Regions from separate parts of the Homo sapiens genome. Here region 1 is linked to region 2. The links come from fine-mapping of genetic effects on gene expression. A gene starts in region 2. The other region holds a variant in brackets. All regions are shown on one strand. Distances are between the middles of the regions. Region 1 has its middle 29 kb from the start of CD300LB. Region 2 holds the start of CD300LB (CD300 molecule like family member b).

Region 1 (8,937 bases), 28 kb after region 2:
GAACTGAGATCATGGTACTGTACTGCAGACAGGGCGATAAAGCCAGACCTTGTCTCACAAAAAAAAGGGGGTGGGGATTAAATACTTAAATCTAAGATCTCAAACTGTGAAACTACTAAAAGAAAATACTGAGGAAATTCTCCAGAACATTGGACTTGGAAAATATTTCTTGAGTAATACTCCACAAGCACAGGCAACCTAAGCAAAAATGGGCAAATGGGATCACATCAAGTTAAAAAGCTTCTGTACAGCAAAAGAAACAATCACCAAAATGAAGCAACAATCCACAGAATGGGAGAAAATATTTGCAAACACCCATTTGACAAGGGATTAATAACCAGAATATGTAAGGAGCCCAAATAACACAGTAGGAAAAAATATAATAATCTAATTAAAAAATGGGCAAAAGATCTGATAGACATCTTTCAAAGAAGATCTACAAAAGGCAAACAGGTATATGAAAACGTGCTCAACATCATTGATCATCAGAGAAATGCAACTCAAAACTCAATGAGATTGTCACACACGTCCATGTGAAGAGACCACCAAACAGGCTTTGTGTGAGCAACAAGGTTGTTTATTTCATCTGGATGCAGGCAGGCTGAGTCCAAAAAATGAGTCAGCAAAGGGTGGTGGGATTATCATTAGTTCTTACAGGTTTGGGATAGGCATAAAAAGTACATTCTCAAGGGCGGGGAGAATATTACAAAGTACCTTCTTAAGGGCAGGGGAGAATATAGCGTATCAGTTAGGGTGGGGCAGGAACAAATCACAATGGTGGAATGTCATCAGTTAAGGCTATTTTCACTTCTTTTGTGGATCTTCAGTTGCTTCAGGCCATCTGGATGTATATGTGCAGGTCACAGGGGACATGATGGCTTAGCTTGGGCTCAGAGGCCTGACATTCCTGTCTTCTTATATTAATAAGAAAAACAAAACAAAATAGTGGTGAAGTGTTGGGGTGGCGAAAATTTTGGGGGGTAGTATGGAGAGATAATGGGCGATGTTTCTCAGGGATGCTTAGAGTGGGATTAGGGGCAGCATGGGAACCTAGAGTGGGAGAGATTAAACTGAAGAAAGATTTTGGGGTAAGGGGTGATATTGTGGGGTTGTTAGAAGTAGGATTTGTTGCACAGAATGATTGGTGATGGACTGTATGTGTTTTGTATGAATTGAGAAGCTAAATGGAAGACACAAGGTCCGAATAAAAGAAGGAGAAAAATAGGTATTAAAGAACTAAGAATTGGGAGTACCCAGGACATCCAATTAGACAGTGTCCAAGGGGGATCAACGCAATTATTTGCTTGGTTAGTGAGTTTTTGGGCTCTATCCTTGAGTTTTTTTATGTTGTCATATACCAGGCCAGACTGATTTAGGTAAAAACAACACTGTTCATTTAAAAATATACAGAGTCCCCCTTTTTTTAGCAGTGAGTAAGTCGGGGCCTCATTGATTTTGGAGGAAAGAGAAATGTAAAGCCAGCAATTGTTTGTTAAAGAAGGATTAGAAACAGCTAGGAGAGAGTGAGTGAGATTGATAGTGTGGTGGAGATAGCTGCGAAGAGGTAGAGAGGGTGGCATAAGAACGGGAACAAGAATAAGAGTGAGTATAAAAGTAAAGAACAGGACTTCATAAGGGTGAGAGTATTGGAGTGTGTCCTGTCAGCAAAGATCATCTACCCACTCCAAGAGGGAGTCAAGAGTGGTGGATTGGGGATAGATTTTCACAATGGAAAGGAAATGAGAGTTTTTAAGAGGCGGGCTAATGGCTTGTAACCTACATGGAAGAGGTTATGAAATGACGACAGGAATAGAATGGGCTAGTGAGGCTTGAAGGAGATTTTTTTTTTGTCTAAAAACCATCTGCCTTGAGTGGAGAGGGATTGATAGGTGGAAACTTCAGTGGGACAGTAAATAGGAGTGACCAATGAGGAGAAAAACTGGCCATCAGGGACAGAAGTTGGAAAACTAGCTGCCTCTTTAGCTACCTTATCAGCATAAGAGTTGCCCTGAGCAATGGGATCTGATGCCTTTTGATGGCCCTTGCAGCGAATGACTCCAGCTTCCTTTGAAAGTAAAGCAGCTTTAAGAAGAGGTTTTATTAAGGACACATTAATAATGGAGGACTCTTGTGTAGTGAGGAAATTTCTTTCTGCCCATGTAACAGCATGGTGGTGCAGGATATGGAAGGCATATTTAGAGTCAGTATAAATATTGACGCGTAGTCCCTTTGCAAGAGTGAGGGCCTGAGTTAAGGCAATGAGTTCGCCTTGCTGAGAGGGAGTGGAGCAGGGCAGAGCAGTAGCCTCAATGATAGATGTGGAAGATACTATAGCATAGCCTGCCTTTGCTGATGAGTGGTGATTAGGCCTGGTGGAACTGCCATCAATAAACCAAGTGTGATCAGGGTGAGGAATAGGAAAGAAGGAAAGATGGGGAAATGGAATAAATGTCAGGTGGATCAGAGAGATAGAGTCATGGGGGTCAGGTGTGGTATCCAGAATAATGTGGGAGGCTGGATTGAAGTCTGGGCCAGGAACAATGGTAACTGTGGGAGACTCAACAAAGAGTGAGTATAGCCAAAGGAGCCGGAGGGCAGAAAGTATATGCATCAGGTGGGAGGAAGAAAATAGATTTTGGAAGTTATGAGAACTGTACGGAGTGAGTTGAGCATAGTTTGTGATTTTGAGGGCCTCTAAAATATTAAAGCAGTGGCAGCCGCTGCACGCAGACATGAGGGCTAGGCTAAAACAGTAAGGTCAAGTTGTTTGGACAGAAAGACTACAGGGCGTGGTTCCAGCTCTTGTGTAAGAATTCCGACCACACAGTCCTGTACTTCAGCTGTGTGTAATGAAAAGGGTTGGGATGAGTTTTTTAAGGAATGGAAAGAGGAGTGGGGAAAGGATTTAGGATCTATGGGGTCAGCTACATTTATCTAGAACAGAATAATGGGTTGTGGAGGGAGGTATTGAGGATAGGAGAGTATATGGGTTTGGCATCACGGTGTGGATAGGCAAGACAATTTGGTTGATAAGGTGCAGATCCTGAACTAACCTGTAAGACTTTTCCGGGTTTTGGACAGGTAAAATGGAGGAATTGCAAGGAGAGTTTATAGGCTTTAGAAGGCCATGCTGTAGCAGGCCAGTGATAACAGGCTTTAATCCTTTTAAAGTGTGCTGTGGGATGGGATACTGGTGTTGAGCGGGGTAAGGGTGATTAGGTTTTAATGGAATGGTAAGGGGTGCATGATCGGTCACCAAGGAGGGAGTAGAGGTGTCCTATACTTGTGGATTAAGGTAGGGAGACACAAGGGGATGATGCGAAGGAGGATTTAAACTGGGGAAAAGGGCAGCAATGAGGTGTGGCTATAGCCCAGGAATAGTCAGGGAAGCAGACAATTTAGTTAAAATGCCTCACCTAATAAGGGAACTGGGCAGGTGGGGATAACTAAAAAGGAGTGCATAAAAGAATGTTGTCCAAGTTGGCACCAGAGTTGGGGAGCTTTAAGAGGTTTAGAAGCCTGGTCGTCAATAGCCACAACAGTTATGGAGGCAAGGGAAACAGGCCCTCGAAAAGAAGGTAATGTGGAGTGGGTAGCCTCCGTATTGATTAAGAAGGGGATGGGCTTACCCTCCAATGTAAGAGTTACCCAAAGCGTCTGTGATGGTCCAGAATGCTCCCGAGGCACCTCATAAATATATACACCTACTATGACCCAGAAAAACTAAAAATAAAAAAAGCTAAAAAAATCAAGGGTCTCACTAACAGGCTCATTTTAACTAAAAGGGGGCAGCAAGGTGGACTTTTGAGCTAAGCAGTGTTGTGGTCAAATACTGAGTGAGTCACTTAACCTTCTCCCTTCGCTTCTGATCCAGCACAGTGGCGCCTAGGACTATGCATGGGACACGAGGGGTTACTCAATCAGTGATGTAGAGACAGCTGGCTAAGTCTTA[T/C]ACAAACTCAAGTTCTGTTCATACCGCACTCTGTAAGCCAAAATAGTTTCAAATGGATCAAAGATTTAAATACGAAGAAACTACACAAGTTTTAGAATAAACTGAAATCTTTCTAAAGTCTTAGACTATTTAAAAGTTTTAGAATAAACTGAAAACTGCAAGTTTTAGAATAAACTGAAAATATAAAATGAAATTTACAAAAGTTTTAGAATAATGGGTGAATTTATTAGACTCTTGAAATGGAGCATCCTAAGGAAAACTCAAACTTTATAAAGCAAATGATTGAGAAATCTGACCTCAGAAAAAAGATGAAACATCACTGGGTGAAAACACCTTTGAAAGTTTTTTAAAAAATGACAAGCTATGAAGGAAATGTTGCAGGCAATTTGACAGAGAGCTTATTTTCTTAATTTACAAAGCACTCGGAGGAACTCAGTAAGATAGATTAAAAGCTCAATGGCAAAATGGGCAAATGGATAGTTCACAGGAAAAAAACTAAAATGGCAAATAAAGGAATGCAAATTCTGAAAATTATAAGATATTATTTTCTTCTATCAGATTGAAAAGAAAATAGAGTGTGAAAATATCCAATACTGGCGAGAGTGTAGGGAAAGGGACATCGTTGAGTGTTCTTGATGGGAAGGTAAGTGGGTGTAAGGTACATGGATGTGCTTTGGTCAAGAATAGGTTAGCCAGGTGCGGTGGCTCACGCCTGCAATCCTAACACTTTGGGAGGCTGAGGCGGGTGGATCACCAGAGGTCAGGTGTTTGAGACCAGCCTGGCCAACATGGTGAAACCCCATCTCTACTATAAATACAAAAAAAAAAAAAAAATAGCTGGGTGTGGTGGCTCGGGAGGCTGAGGCAGGAGAATCGCTTGAACCTGGGAGGCGGAGGTTACAGTAAGCCGAGATTGCACCATTGCACTCCAGCCTGGGCGACAGAGCGAAACTCCGTCTCAAAAAACAAAAACAAAAACAAAAACAAAACAGGCAGAGGCAAACATCAGGGCCAGCGTGACTCAGGGAGTCTGGCGCGCAGGCGCATAACTCCACTTGTTATGTAATCTGTTTGTGTAAGTGGCTCAGAGCCACTATTGTCTGTAAAAGGTATAACTGCCCTGCTGACGCTGTACATGTGGTTCGGCATGGCTTGTGCCCAGAGGCAGAGAGTAAAACTGCTGACCCCATAAGGGAGAGCCAGGCTTGTAGGCCAGGGAATGCAGCTGTAAGCCTGGGAATGGCAAGAGCCGCAAAGCTGGAGCAGGCAGCCGAGATAAAGGTGAATTGTATGAGAAAGCTTCTGATGAAACTATCACAAGGACAGAAAACCAAACACCGAATGTTCTCACTCATAGGTAGGAATCGAACAATGAGAACACTTGGACACAGGGTGGGGAACATCACACACCGGGGCCTGTCAAGGGGTGGGGGGCTGGGGGAGGGATAGCATTAGGAGAAATACCTAGTGTAAATGACGAGCTGATGGGTGCAGCAAACCAACATGGCACATATATACCTATGTAACAAACCTGCACATTGTACACATGTACCCTAGAACTTAAAGTATATAAAAAAAACTGCTGATGAAAAAGCTGCTGAATAAAACCATATTTTACCTGCCTACAGCCCCCTAAATATTCCTTCCGCTATTCGCCACCCATCCACCCACTCCCCTCAGACCTCAACATGGGCTGGAACCTGACGCTTGGCATGACAGTGGGCAAGAGCTTTTTGAAGGAAAATTTGTCAAGATCTATTAAAAAAAAGTCAATTCATGGACCTTTTGACTAATGCTCCACTATTGGAAATTTCTCCTAAAGATATACTCAGATAGGCCAGGCGTGGTGGCTCACGCCTGTAATCCCAGCACTTTGGGAGGCTGAAGTGGGCAGATCACGAGGTCAGGAGATCGAGACCAGCCTGGCCAACACGGTGAAACCCCATCTCTACTAAAAATACAAAAATTAGCTGGGTGTGGTGGTGCACGCCTGTAGTCCCAGCTACTTGGGAGGCTGAGGCAGAAGAATCGCTTGAACCCGGGAGACAGAGGTTGCAGTGAGCCAAGATCACACCACTGCACTCCAGCCTGGGCAACAGAGCAAGACTCTGTCTCAAAAAAAAAAAAAAAAAAAAAAAAAAAAGATATACTCAGATATATACCAAGATACAGGTACAAAAATACAAAAACATGGTCTGGGATGACATAACAATGTGTGCATCTGTGCATGTGTATACACACGCAGTCATACATGGGGCCTTGTATGACACACAGATACATCGGCATGCATTGTGCACCTACAGCTCCAGTCCCTCCCCCAGCGCCTGACTCATACAGCCAATAGGGGGCTTGTCATCTTTATTTGAGCATCTGTACGCCCAACAGAGTCCCTGTTTCCTCTCCCCAATTCCACCCCAAAACTGCTGCTCTCTTAGTCTTTCCATTTCCGTAAAGGGACCCACCTTTACTGCCCTCCCAATTGCTCAAGTGAAAACCGTAGAAGTCACCTGCAATTTTTATTCCTTTCTTTTCACTCCCTCCCACATCCAATCCTTCAGCCTGTTGGGTTGGCTCTACGGCCAGAATGCATTCTGAGCTTGTCCACCTTCTCCAATGGCCACATCCACCACCCCATTCCAAGGTGCCATTGTGTGACTCCCTTGCTTGAAATTTTTCAGAGTTTCCACTTAGGACAAAATCCACACATTTGCGTATTAACCCTTCCCTGATCTGACCACTGCCTGCCTCTGCCTTTCTGCGTCTGCCTCCCACCAAGCTCCCCACATTGTCTACTCTGTACTCATCTGGCCGGCACCCTAAGCCTGGGACACACTAGCCTTGTTCCCCCTTAGAGCCTTTGCCTGAGCTGTTTCCTCTGCCAGGAATGCTCTCACTCTATATTATTGTGTGGCTGGCTCCTTCTCAAGTCTCAGCTCAAATGTCAGGAAGTCCCTCCATGACCTCCCTATGCAAGCAGCCCTTCCTGCCTCTCATCACTCTCAGCTGTACACAATTCAGATCTTCACACAGCAGTTCTGTGATGATCTGAACGAAGCTTGCTTTTGTTTTGTTTGTTCTGTCTACTGCCCACTAAGATACAAGGACCAGACAGAAGGGGCCTCATTTATCTTCTTCACTGCTATGTCTCTGCTGTATAGCTCCATGGTATATAGTAGGTATTCAATAAAAGTCATCAAGTAAATGAGTAAATAACGGAATGAATTAAAACTGTGGAATCACATATAAAAGAATGAGGTAGATTTGTGTGTACTTGTATAACAAGGTCTCTAGGACATATGCAAAAGTGAGGTATGAAGAATTATGAGCCCCTCCCCCCACTTTTTTTGGAGATGGAGTCTTGCTGTGTCGCCCATGCTGGAGTGCAGTGGCGCGATCTTGACTCGCTGCAACCTCTGCCTCCTGAGCTCAAGCGATTCTCCTTCCTCAGCCTCCCAAGTAGCTGGGATTACAGGTGTGTGTCACCACACTTGGCTAATTTTGTATTTTTAGTAGAGACAGGGTTTCACCAAGTTGGCCAGGCTGGTCTTGAACTCCTGACCTCAGGTGATCCGCCTGCCTCGGCCTCCCAAAGTGCTGGGATTACAAATGTGAACCACTGCGCCTGGATTAGCCCTTTTGAAAATAATTTTGAAATAATAATAAGTTTTCTGAAAGCTGTGTAAGAAATGGCTAACAGTAGTCACTTTTGTGGAATGGTACTAGGGGTAGGGTAGGAGGAAGGAGACTTTTTTGTTAATTTTATAACTTCCTGTACTGTTTTAATTTTCTGTCCATTGCACATGGGTTTAAAATTTTTTTTTTTTTTTGTCCTGAGATGGAGTCTTGCTCTGTCACCCAGGTTGGAGTGCAATGGCGCGATCTCGGCTCACTGCAACCTCTGCCTCCCAGGTGCAAGCAATTCTCCTGCCTCAGCCTCCCCAGTAGCTGGGATTATGGGAGCTTGCCACCGCGCCTGGCTAATTAAATAATTTTTACTTTTCTTTTTGTGTGTGTGTTAAGAGACATCATCTGGATATGGAACGATACACACTTTTCTGAATTAATGTTATTCTTTTTGTTGTTATTGTTGATTGTTTGTTTTTGAGATGGAGTCTCGCTCTGTCACCCAGGCTGGAGTGCAGCGGCATGATCTTGGCTCACTGCAACCTCCGCCTCCTGGGCTCAAGCGATTCTCCTGCCTCAGCCTCACGAGTAGCTGGGATTACAGGCATGCACCACCATGCCTGGCTAACTTTTTGTATTTTTAGTAGAGACGGGGTTTCACCATGTTGTCCAGGCTGGTCTCAAACTCCTGGCCTCAAGTGATCTGCCTGCCTTGGCCTCTCAAAGTGCCAGGATTACAGACGTGAGCCACAGAACCCGGCCAGAATTAATGGTATTTATTTAAAAGCAATGAGAACTATTTATTTGTAATTGGCAGAAGTTTAAATCATTTTTTTAAAGGCACCATTCCCAATGTTGGCCATGGGATATGCTGAAGGATATTTCCATACCAGGCTGATAGGAGAATAAATTGCACCCAAATCCTATCGAATATACTACCCCTGGGCCGAGACATTTCTAAGAGTGTATCCTAAAGAAATAATTATGTGCAAGAATGGTCACATAATTGGTTATAATAGCAAGAAACTAGAAACATCCTAAATCCCCAACAGTAAAGATATGGTTAAATAAATTACATTACATCCATAAAAGGAACATGATACAAATTTTAAGAGTATATGTTATTTGAACCCATATTTTATAAGGAAAAAATGTAGATATATGAACATTGTTATTTTCTTCTTTTTGTCTGTATTTTCTAACTTTTTTTTTTACAACAAATAGATCTTTTTTCTGTAGTTAATATAAAAAAAATTTTTTTTTTTTTTTTGAGATCGAGTCCAGTGTGTCACCCAGGCTGGAGTGCAGTGGTGTGATCTTGGCTCACTGCAACCTCCGTCTCCTGGGTTCAAACAATTCTC
Region 2 (8,937 bases):
CACCATGTTGGTCAGGCTGGTCTTGAACTGATGACCTCGTGATCCATCTGCCTCAGCCTCCCAAAGTGCTGGGATTACAGGCATGAGCCACCGCGCCCCGCCCCATTTTGTGGCATCTTTTATTGCATTTTCAAGTTATTCATTGCATGCATGTAGATAAACAATTGATCCTTACTGATTATATATATTTAGCAACTCTGCAAAAAATCTTAGTAATTGTTTTCAGTTTTATATGTAGATAATCAATTAATCTAGAATAATTTAGAGCTTTGTTTTTCTTTCTAATTCTCATGTCTTTTGTTTCTCTTTCTTGTTGTATTGTGCAGGCTAATCAAAGTGTTGAATCAAAGTAGTGATTTTGAGCAATCTTGTCCTCTTCCTGATTCTAAAGGAAAGATTTTGCCATGGGTTGTAATGGGTTGCTTATAGGCACCTTTTAATTCCTAGTTTATCATGAAAAGTAATGGATTTCAGATAGTGGTTTTTGTGCGTTTACATGATTATGTGGGTTTTCTTCTTTATTCTATTAATGTGATTCATTATATTAATTTTTTTAGATGAAGCCTCATTCTGTCACCCAGGTTGGAGTGCAGAGAAGACGATCTGTTACCCATCTAGAAAGAGAAGTGAGAATAAAAGCATTATTTTAGTCTCCTTCCTTTCAGTATGTGATCCAGGATGGAGAACACAGTAGGGGGCGTTCCCCCAACTATTTTCTTTCCCTGGTTCCTGGATCCTGGCACCCATTTAAATGTGCTGGCCATGACTGCAGGCGTGACCCTCCAAGCCATGGCACCAGAGAAACTAGACTTCTGGGCCCACTTACACTTCCACAAGCACCTTAGTCTTTTATTTCTTTTTGACCTCCTGTGTGACCTGTGTGCTTCCCTAAAAAACAAAACAAAAAAACAACGATTTTAAGAAAAACTACGGGCCAGGTGTGGTGACTTATGTCTGTAATTCTAGCACTTTGGGAGGGCAAGGTGGGTGGATCACCTGAGGTCAGGAGTTCAAGACCAGCCTGGCCAACATGGTGAAACCCTGTCTCCACTAAAAATACAAAAATTAGCCACACATGGTAGCGGGCACCTGTAATTCCAGCAACTTGGGAGGATGAGGCAGGAGAATCACTTGAACCCGGGAGGTGGAGGTTGCAGTGAGCTGAGATCATACCACTGCAATCCAGCCTGGGTGGCAAGAGCAAGACTCCATCTCAAAAAAAAAAAAAAAAAAAAAAAAAAGGAAAGAAAAGAAAAGAAAAAAAAAGAAAAACTACATAATTGGGCAAAGCCTCTTTAAGGGAGGGGGCGTGCTAGATTGAACTTTATATCTTGCTATTATTATGGCCTGTGCTAAAGCATTTACCCTTAGAAAAATGGTTCTGGTTAACTTCTGGACTTAAAAATCCCCTTACTAATTAAGTACCATCTTAATCGGAGACAGAATAGGTGCCTTAAAGGAATGTAGGAACCGAATGGCCATTTTCCTGCCAATGGGACAATATTGAGACTAAAATTTGGCTATGGAAGACTTCTTAACTCCTAACTGCTAAAGGCAGAACTTTCCCATTTCAAGAAGAGGCCTAGAGCCTGATTTCTTTTTCTTTTTTCTTTTCTTGTTCTTTCTTTCTCTCTCTCTCTCTCTTTCCTTTTCTTTTCTTTTCTTTTTTTTGAGACCGAGTCTTGCTCTGTTGCCCAGGCTGGAGTGCAGTGGCGCGATCTCGGCTCACTGCAAGCTCTGCCTGCCGGGTTCACGCCATTCTCCTGCCTCAGCCTCCCGAGTAGCTGGGACTACAGGCGCCCGCCACCACGCCTGGCTAATTTTTTTTTGTATTTTTAGTAGAGACGGGGTTTCACTGTGTTAGCCAGGATGGTCTCGATCTCCCGACCTCATGATCTGCCCGCCTCGGCCTCCCAAAGTGCTGGGATTACAGGCATGAGCCACCGCGCCTGGCCGAGCCTGATTTCTAATCATGCAAAAAGAAGCTGCGGTTTGCCATGAAAAAATATGCTTTATGTAGAGGATTTCTATTTCTACTAGGTGGCACTGTTGGCTTAGAAATACTATGTGCTCACTAGAGACGTGGTAGTGAGTAACCTCACGGTGGGAGAAAGGGGAGAACTCTGTTCCTAGAAGATTGCAAGGGCATCTTCCTGATTTTGCCTAACAGGATTACTTTCCTAGGCTGTAAAACTCGCTACACATTTCACACAAAGAAAGTGTAAGAGACCGCAGATAGAGAAGGAAGGAGAGTTTTGTGACAAGATAGTTGAGGATTCTTTGCCAACACCCAGAATGGGCCGCCAGAGGCTGGGTCCAGTCCAGGGGCCTTTGAATCATGCCAGGGTGTGCTCTGGCCAGAAATTGTTAGTTGCCTTAGAACTTTTCCCAGCCTTGCACAATGGCGAGGTCTTCCCGTGAAAAGAAGCTGATTTAAAACATGGCCAACATTCCCAATGACCCAGGGGTGTTGGGGGGTTCTCCGTGTTCTCAGCAGCAAGCCTCACATTCGAGTCTTCAGTATGGCAGCCAACACTAAGTGTATGTACCCGGCTGACGGATGCCCATTGACTTATTTTATTTTAAAATAGAGGCTAAGAGTGCCTCGGAATGATAGAAGAGATTTTAAGCTCACTCCCATACTTACCACTCCGATGAGTGTCGTACCTTGGATTCCCGGCCAATGCAACAAAATGGTATGGCTCTGATGACTGGAGGAACACTAGGGTCCTTGGTCTCCCACTGGTTTGAATAAAACAACATGGGCACACGTGGAGTGGTTTTAAGGAGTGGAGAATTTAATAGACAAGAAAGAAGGAAGGAAGAGGCTCCCCCTGTTCTGAGACTGAGGGAGGCGGGCTCCAAGCTGAAAGAGGGAACCTCGAGTACGGTGGAAAACAGCCAGTTATATGAGGAGGCTGGAGGAGGCGGTACCTGATTTGCATAGGGCCCAGGGGATTGGTTTGACCAGGTATGTCATTCAAGTAGCCCACGAAAAAACTAGCCTTCCTACCCTAGCCTTTTAATATGCAAATACAGGCGCCATGATGTTCTACACACATGGGTGTATGTAGGGGCGGCCATGTTGCCAGGAACGTGGGGAAAAGAAGAAGAGGCGGGAGTCTCCATGTTTGGGTGGACGCAGTTTCTAATGGCCTGTATTTGCATATCAAAGCTTGCCTGCCCAGCTCTAAGAGCCAGGGCTTTTCTTCTAGACAAGAAACATTTATGGAGCTGCTTTAAAAGAAAAAAAAATCTTCCCAAGCACCCCTTTTCCTATCTACCTAAAATAATTTCTTAATAACTCCTATAACAACAACAAACATTATGAGCCCAGTTAATAGATACAATAACTGAGGCACAGAGATGTTGATTGCATTGTCCACAGTCACGCAGCTTGTAGGTGGTGCTCGTGGGGTTAGAGCCAGGTCTGTCTGACCCAACAGTCTGCATGTTTATGCACTTGGCTATAACACCTGAACAAATGCATGTTCAGGTGTGCCCAGCATGACCCATCCGACATCTGAGTTGGGTGTTCACTGTGGTATAGAACAGCTCTGAAATTGACTCCCAGAGTGTTATACCCCTTGGACCCAAGGCCTGCTAGGCCAGACGCCCCCCACCCCACCCCTTCTGCAGACGTATCTCCCCCTACCCTAAAGACCCTGCACAGTCCCCTCCCTCCTCTTTTTTACATAGTGACGATGCTTAAGCCCTGTGGCGCAGCCCTGCCAAAAAATGACACCTCTTTCGTTTAATAATTAAAAGCAGGAACTACCCACTCTATAAAAGGAAGTGAATGAGTAAGAAAGTCAAAGGCGGTCTAGATGTGCAGAAGGTGCAAGCCAGAGCTCAGGCAGAACTTCCAGAGTGCATCTGGGATCTGCATTTGCCACTGGTTGCAGATCAGGCGGACGAGGAGCCGGGAAGGCAGAGCCATGTGGCTGCCCCCTGCTCTGCTCCTTCTCAGCCTCTCAGGTGAGTGGGGCTGGGGCCTTGGGCGCTTGGTATGACAGGGGCAGGGCAGGAGGCAGAGGGCATTTGTCCTTCCACATCCAGGGAAATGAGAGGTGGCTTTGTGAAGTCATTCGACAAAGGTGCACTGGGGACTGACATCGTGTGCTTCGGGGCCTGAGGACATCAAGAAAAAAGAGGAGGAGAACTGGCCATTAAAGAAGACTCCAGGCTTGAGGCCATGGCTCACACCTATAATCCTAACACTTTGGGAGGCCAAGGTGGGAGGATTGCTTGAGTCCAGGCGTTTAAGACCAGTTTGGGCAACATGGTGAGACCTCGTCTCTATATAAAATGAACAAAAATTAGCTGGGCGTGGTGACCGTGCCTGTAGTCCCAGCTACTTGGGAGGCTGAAGCTGGAGGATCCTTTGAGCTCAGGTATTCAATTCTGCAGAGTTATGATCGCACCACAGCACTCCAGCCTGGGTGATACAGTGGGACCTTGTCTCAAAAAAAAAATAAAGTAAAAAGACTCCAGATGGCTTAGTGGGTGAGACATACACATAAACAATGAGCAATTGCAGGACACAATAAGGCATTGGTGGAGGCGTGTGCGGAGGATGAAGCAGTTCTCTCTGGTGACTAGAGAAAGACTCACGAAGCTGTGCACTTGATGTGCCTTGTAGAAGGAAGGTCAGTCTCTGGAGCAGAGCTGAGAGGAGAACACTCTAGAGAGTTGGGTGTGTGTGTGTGTGTGTGTGTGTGTGTGTGTGTGTGTGTGTTGGGGGACCTGGGCAGAGAGATGGAGGCTTAGAAAGAATGGTGGATTCATGCAGAGGGAGCTGTCAGTGTGCAGGATGTCTTGGAGGTGGCGAGTTGGATATGAGGTTGGAAACACAAAAGACAAGATTATGAAGGCCATCCACGCCAGGCTCAGGAGCTGAGACTTTCAAAGAAAAAACTTCTCAAGAACCCAGGTGGAAAGTGGGAAGGGCTAGATGATCTTCTCCATGGCAAACCTTGGTGGACACCTAGAGGGCATTAGGGGACAATCTAGAATTTTACGCAGGGTGTGCAATGTGTGTGGGCCACACAGTTTTCTGCTGGTGCCTAGGGACTGACCATCTGGCACAGATAGAGCAGTCCACGGAGGGACAACAGGAAAGAGCATGGCTGGGGAGTTCTGAGACCCGACTCCAGTCCTGGCTGGACTTCCACCCTTCAGCCCGTTCAACGGGGCTCTGCTCCAAGCTGACGGCTGCCCTGTCATTTCCATCTCTATCGTTCCTCATACCAACTCTTGACAACATATAGAAGCCTGATTAATAGTTCCAGCCATCATATTCTGTGGTTAGAGAAACCCCCAAATATTTTTTTAAACGGGACTAATTACATCGTGAGCCATTTACAGTTTGAATGACTGAAGCTGGGATTGATGACACTTTGTTCAATGCAGCAGCATCTCTTTTCTGCTGTTAGTGATTGCTGACAAATCCAATTTATGTTTTTGGGTATTTTGTTTTTGTTTTTGTTTTTTGTTTTTGAGACGGAGTTTCACTCTGTCACCCAGGTTGGAGTGCAGTGGTGCAACCTTGGCTCACTGCAACCTCCGCCTCCCAGGTTCGAGTGATTCTTCTGCCTCAGTCTCCCAAGAAGCTGGGATTAAGGTGCCTGCCACCATGCCTGGCTAATTTTTGTAATTTTAGTAGAGACAGGATTTCACCATGTTGGTGAGGTTGGTCTTGAACTCCTGACCTCAGGTGATCCACCCACCTTGGCCTCCCAAAGTGCGGGAATACAGGCATGAGCCACCGTGCCCGGCCCCGAAAAGACTTTTAGATGCTCAGGGCAAGTGCAGCTGATGAGGAGGAGGAGACAGTCTCAGTACCCAACTCAGGCAGCAGTATGGAGAGGAAAGCTGAGGGAGCTGTCAGTGTGCAGGACATCTTGGGGGTGGCGAGTTGGATATGAGGTTGGAAACACAAAAGACAAGATTATGAAGGCCATAATCCTCAGGAGAGGAGAGTTGGGGAGGATGCTGCTGGGGCTGGGAAGACCTCTCCAGATGCCACTGCCATGATCCAGGCACAGATGAAGTTCTGACCTGTTGATGAGCTGTCACTGACAGAGCAAACCCCAAATGTCTGGCGTTGGACATACATCCAAGTCTTCTTTTAAATTTAAAAATAAATAATTTTTTGAAGACAGTGTCTCACTCTGTCACCCAGGCTGAAGTGCAGTGGTGGGCGATTATAACTCACTGCAGCCTTGAACTCTCAGGCTCAGGCGATCCTCCCACCTCAGCCCCCCAAGCAGTGGGGACCACAGGCATGCACCACCACTCCTGGCTAATCTTTTGCATTTGCAGACACAGGGTTTCACCATGTTGCCCAGGTTAGTCTGGAACTCCTGGGCTCAAGCGATCCTCCTGCCTCAGCCTCCCACAGCTTTGGAATTACAGGCATGAGCCACCTTGCCCAGCCTACACACATCCAAGTCCTATTACCACCTTCAAAGTAGAGCGTAGCATGACTGTCTTATGAATAAGGAAGCGATACTTGCAGAGGTTAAGCAACTCTGCCAGGGTTTCCCAACTAGTTCAGTGTCAAGTCTTTCTGCATCAAAGCTCACACTCTCTCTGATGTCATGCTGTCCTTGTGGCCTGCGATGGCAGAGACTGAAAGAAGAAAAAAAAAAACTGAGGAGCATCTCTAGGATAGAGCTGACTAAACTGGCTACCAATCAGCTCGGGGGCTGAAGGAGAGGACAGCATGAAAGAAGATGCCAAGCTCTTCCTGAAGGCTGGGTGGTGGAGCTGCTGGTTTGAAGAGAATCAAGTTGGTTCTGCTGATTGAATGCCATGTGAATTTCCAGTGGCTGCTGTAACAAATTAACATGAACTCTATGGCTTAGAACTGCACAATTTCATCATCTCATTGATGCTTCTGAAGACCAGAGCCTGGCGTGGTCTTACTGGTTAAAATTGAGGTGCAAGTAGGGTTGGGTTTCTTTAGAGCAGTGGTCCCCAACCTTTTTGGCACCAGGATCCGGTTTTGTGGAAGACAATTTTTCCACATCAGGAGTGGGGTGAGGATGGTTTGGGATGATTCAAACGCATTACACTTATTGTATACTTTATATTACTATTATATTATAATATATAATGAAATGATTATACACTGCACCATAATGTAGAATCAGTGGGAGCCCTAAGCTTGTTTACCTGCAACTAGATGATCCCATCTGGGGGTGATGGGAGACAGTGACACATCATCAGGCATTAGAGTCTCATAAAGTGTGTGCAATCTAGATCCCTCACACACGAAGTTCACAATAGGGTTCTCACTTCTATGAGAATCTAATGCGGCCGCTGGTCTGATGGGAGGCGGAGATCAGGTGGTAGTTTGAACAACGGGGAGTGGCTGTAAATACAGATGAAGCTTCGCTTGCTTGCCCACCGCTCACCTCCTGCTGTAAGGTCCGGTTCCTAACAGGCCATGGGCTGTTACTAGTCTGTTGTCCTGGGGTTGGGAACCCCTATTCTAGGGGAGAATCTGTTTCCCTGCATTTTCCAGCTTCTAGAAGCCATCTGCTTTCCTTGGCCGGTGGCCTCTTCTTCCACTTCAAAGCAGCAACAGACCATCTTCCAATTGGACTCTCCCTCAACCCTCTTTCACTTAGAATATCCATGGAGATTATTCGGGATATTCTTCCTGTCTCAAGGTCCTTAACTTCATCACATCGGCAGAGTCCCTCTGGCCATGTCAGGGGACATATTCGCAGGTTCTGTGTATGAGGATGCCAACAGCTATGGGGGACATTATTCTACCAACCACGAATGCAAAGTTCAAGAAAACTAACACAGCTTCAAGGAGAAGGCCCAAGCTGTGAGGAGGCGGCATCTGCCTGGAGAAATAGACCTGGCTTTCTCCACCCTGCAGAGACCCCTGGCCTGGGCCTGAAGCTCTGAGGCCAAGAGACAGTCAAGAGAGGCTTCCCCTGTGATTCTCTGCCTGTTTATCCACTTCTGCGTGATCAAGAAACCCGTGTCATTGCCAAGGAAAGAGCCTATCTACACACAGCCTAACTGGAGTCAATCAGCGGAGGCACGGACTGCCATTTGATTATGCTCACCTCTAACCTGTTCAGCTTTCACCAGGCCTTTGTTACTCTTGCCACATCCAATTGCTCCACTAGAAAAAAATACTGAAGAAGAGTAGTTCAGGGTGGGAGAGGAAGTGCATTCAATTCTGCAACGAAGGAATCTGGGGTGGAGACATCCAGTGTGTCTTTGTAAATGGTGGGCTAGCTAAGGGGAGTCTGAGCTGCAAATATGGATTTGGGAATCATCAGGAAACAGGTAATCATTAAAGCCATGGAAATGGAGAGACTCCCTCCATGGAGGCTTGTCAGGTGAGACAAGATGAAGGCTGGAGAGGGAACCCTGGGTACCCCCGCAGTGTGCTGGGGCTGGCTCACAGGAGCTGGCTTGGGACATCTTTTCCCAGCTCTGTGTCCAGTGACATCACATGGATTACCTGACATCTGCCACCGTGGGAGTATTTACACTATGGAATTTGGCAAATATTAAAACCAGATTTTTTTTCTTTTTCTTTTTCTAGACAAGAGTCTCACTCTGTTGCCTAGGCTGGAGTGCAGTGGTGCGATCTCAGCTCACTGCAACCTCCGCCTCCCGGGTTCAAGCAATTTTCATGCTTCAGCCTCCCGCATAGCTGAGACTACAGGTGACTGCCACCACGCCCAGCTAATTTTTGTATTTTTAGTAAAGACTGGGTTTCACCATGTTGGCCATGCAGGTCTCGAACTCCTGACCTCAGGTGATCTGCCCACCTTGGCTTCCCAAAGTGCTGGGATTACAAGTGTGAGCCACCGTGCCCAGCTCCTAAACCAGAGATTTTTTCCCCCAGAGGGCTGGTTGTTAAATATTTGGCTCCGATGAAAACAGCATTGAGAGGACAAG

The links.
Region 1: its variant is fine-mapped to the expression of CD300LB in whole blood (TOPMed, PIP above 0.99).

What each region holds. Positions count from the first base shown.
Region 1 is chr17:74,498,001-74,506,937 of GRCh38, reverse strand. No RefSeq gene overlaps it. Among named protein-coding and RNA genes, the nearest start is that of CD300LB, 29 kb to the left of the region's middle. The variant T/C (reference allele first, on the strand shown) is at 3,953.
Region 2 is chr17:74,526,352-74,535,288 of GRCh38, reverse strand. CD300LB (CD300 molecule like family member b) reads left to right here and starts at 3,814. Exons shown (of 4, transcript NM_174892.4): 1 at 3,814-3,978. The coding sequence starts at 3,939. LOC107985074 (a long non-coding RNA gene) reads right to left here. Exons shown (of 3, transcript XR_007065902.1): 2 at 2,648-2,742; 3 at 410-614. It also overlaps a transcript of CD300C not described here. RefSeq lists an enhancer at 6,695-6,764.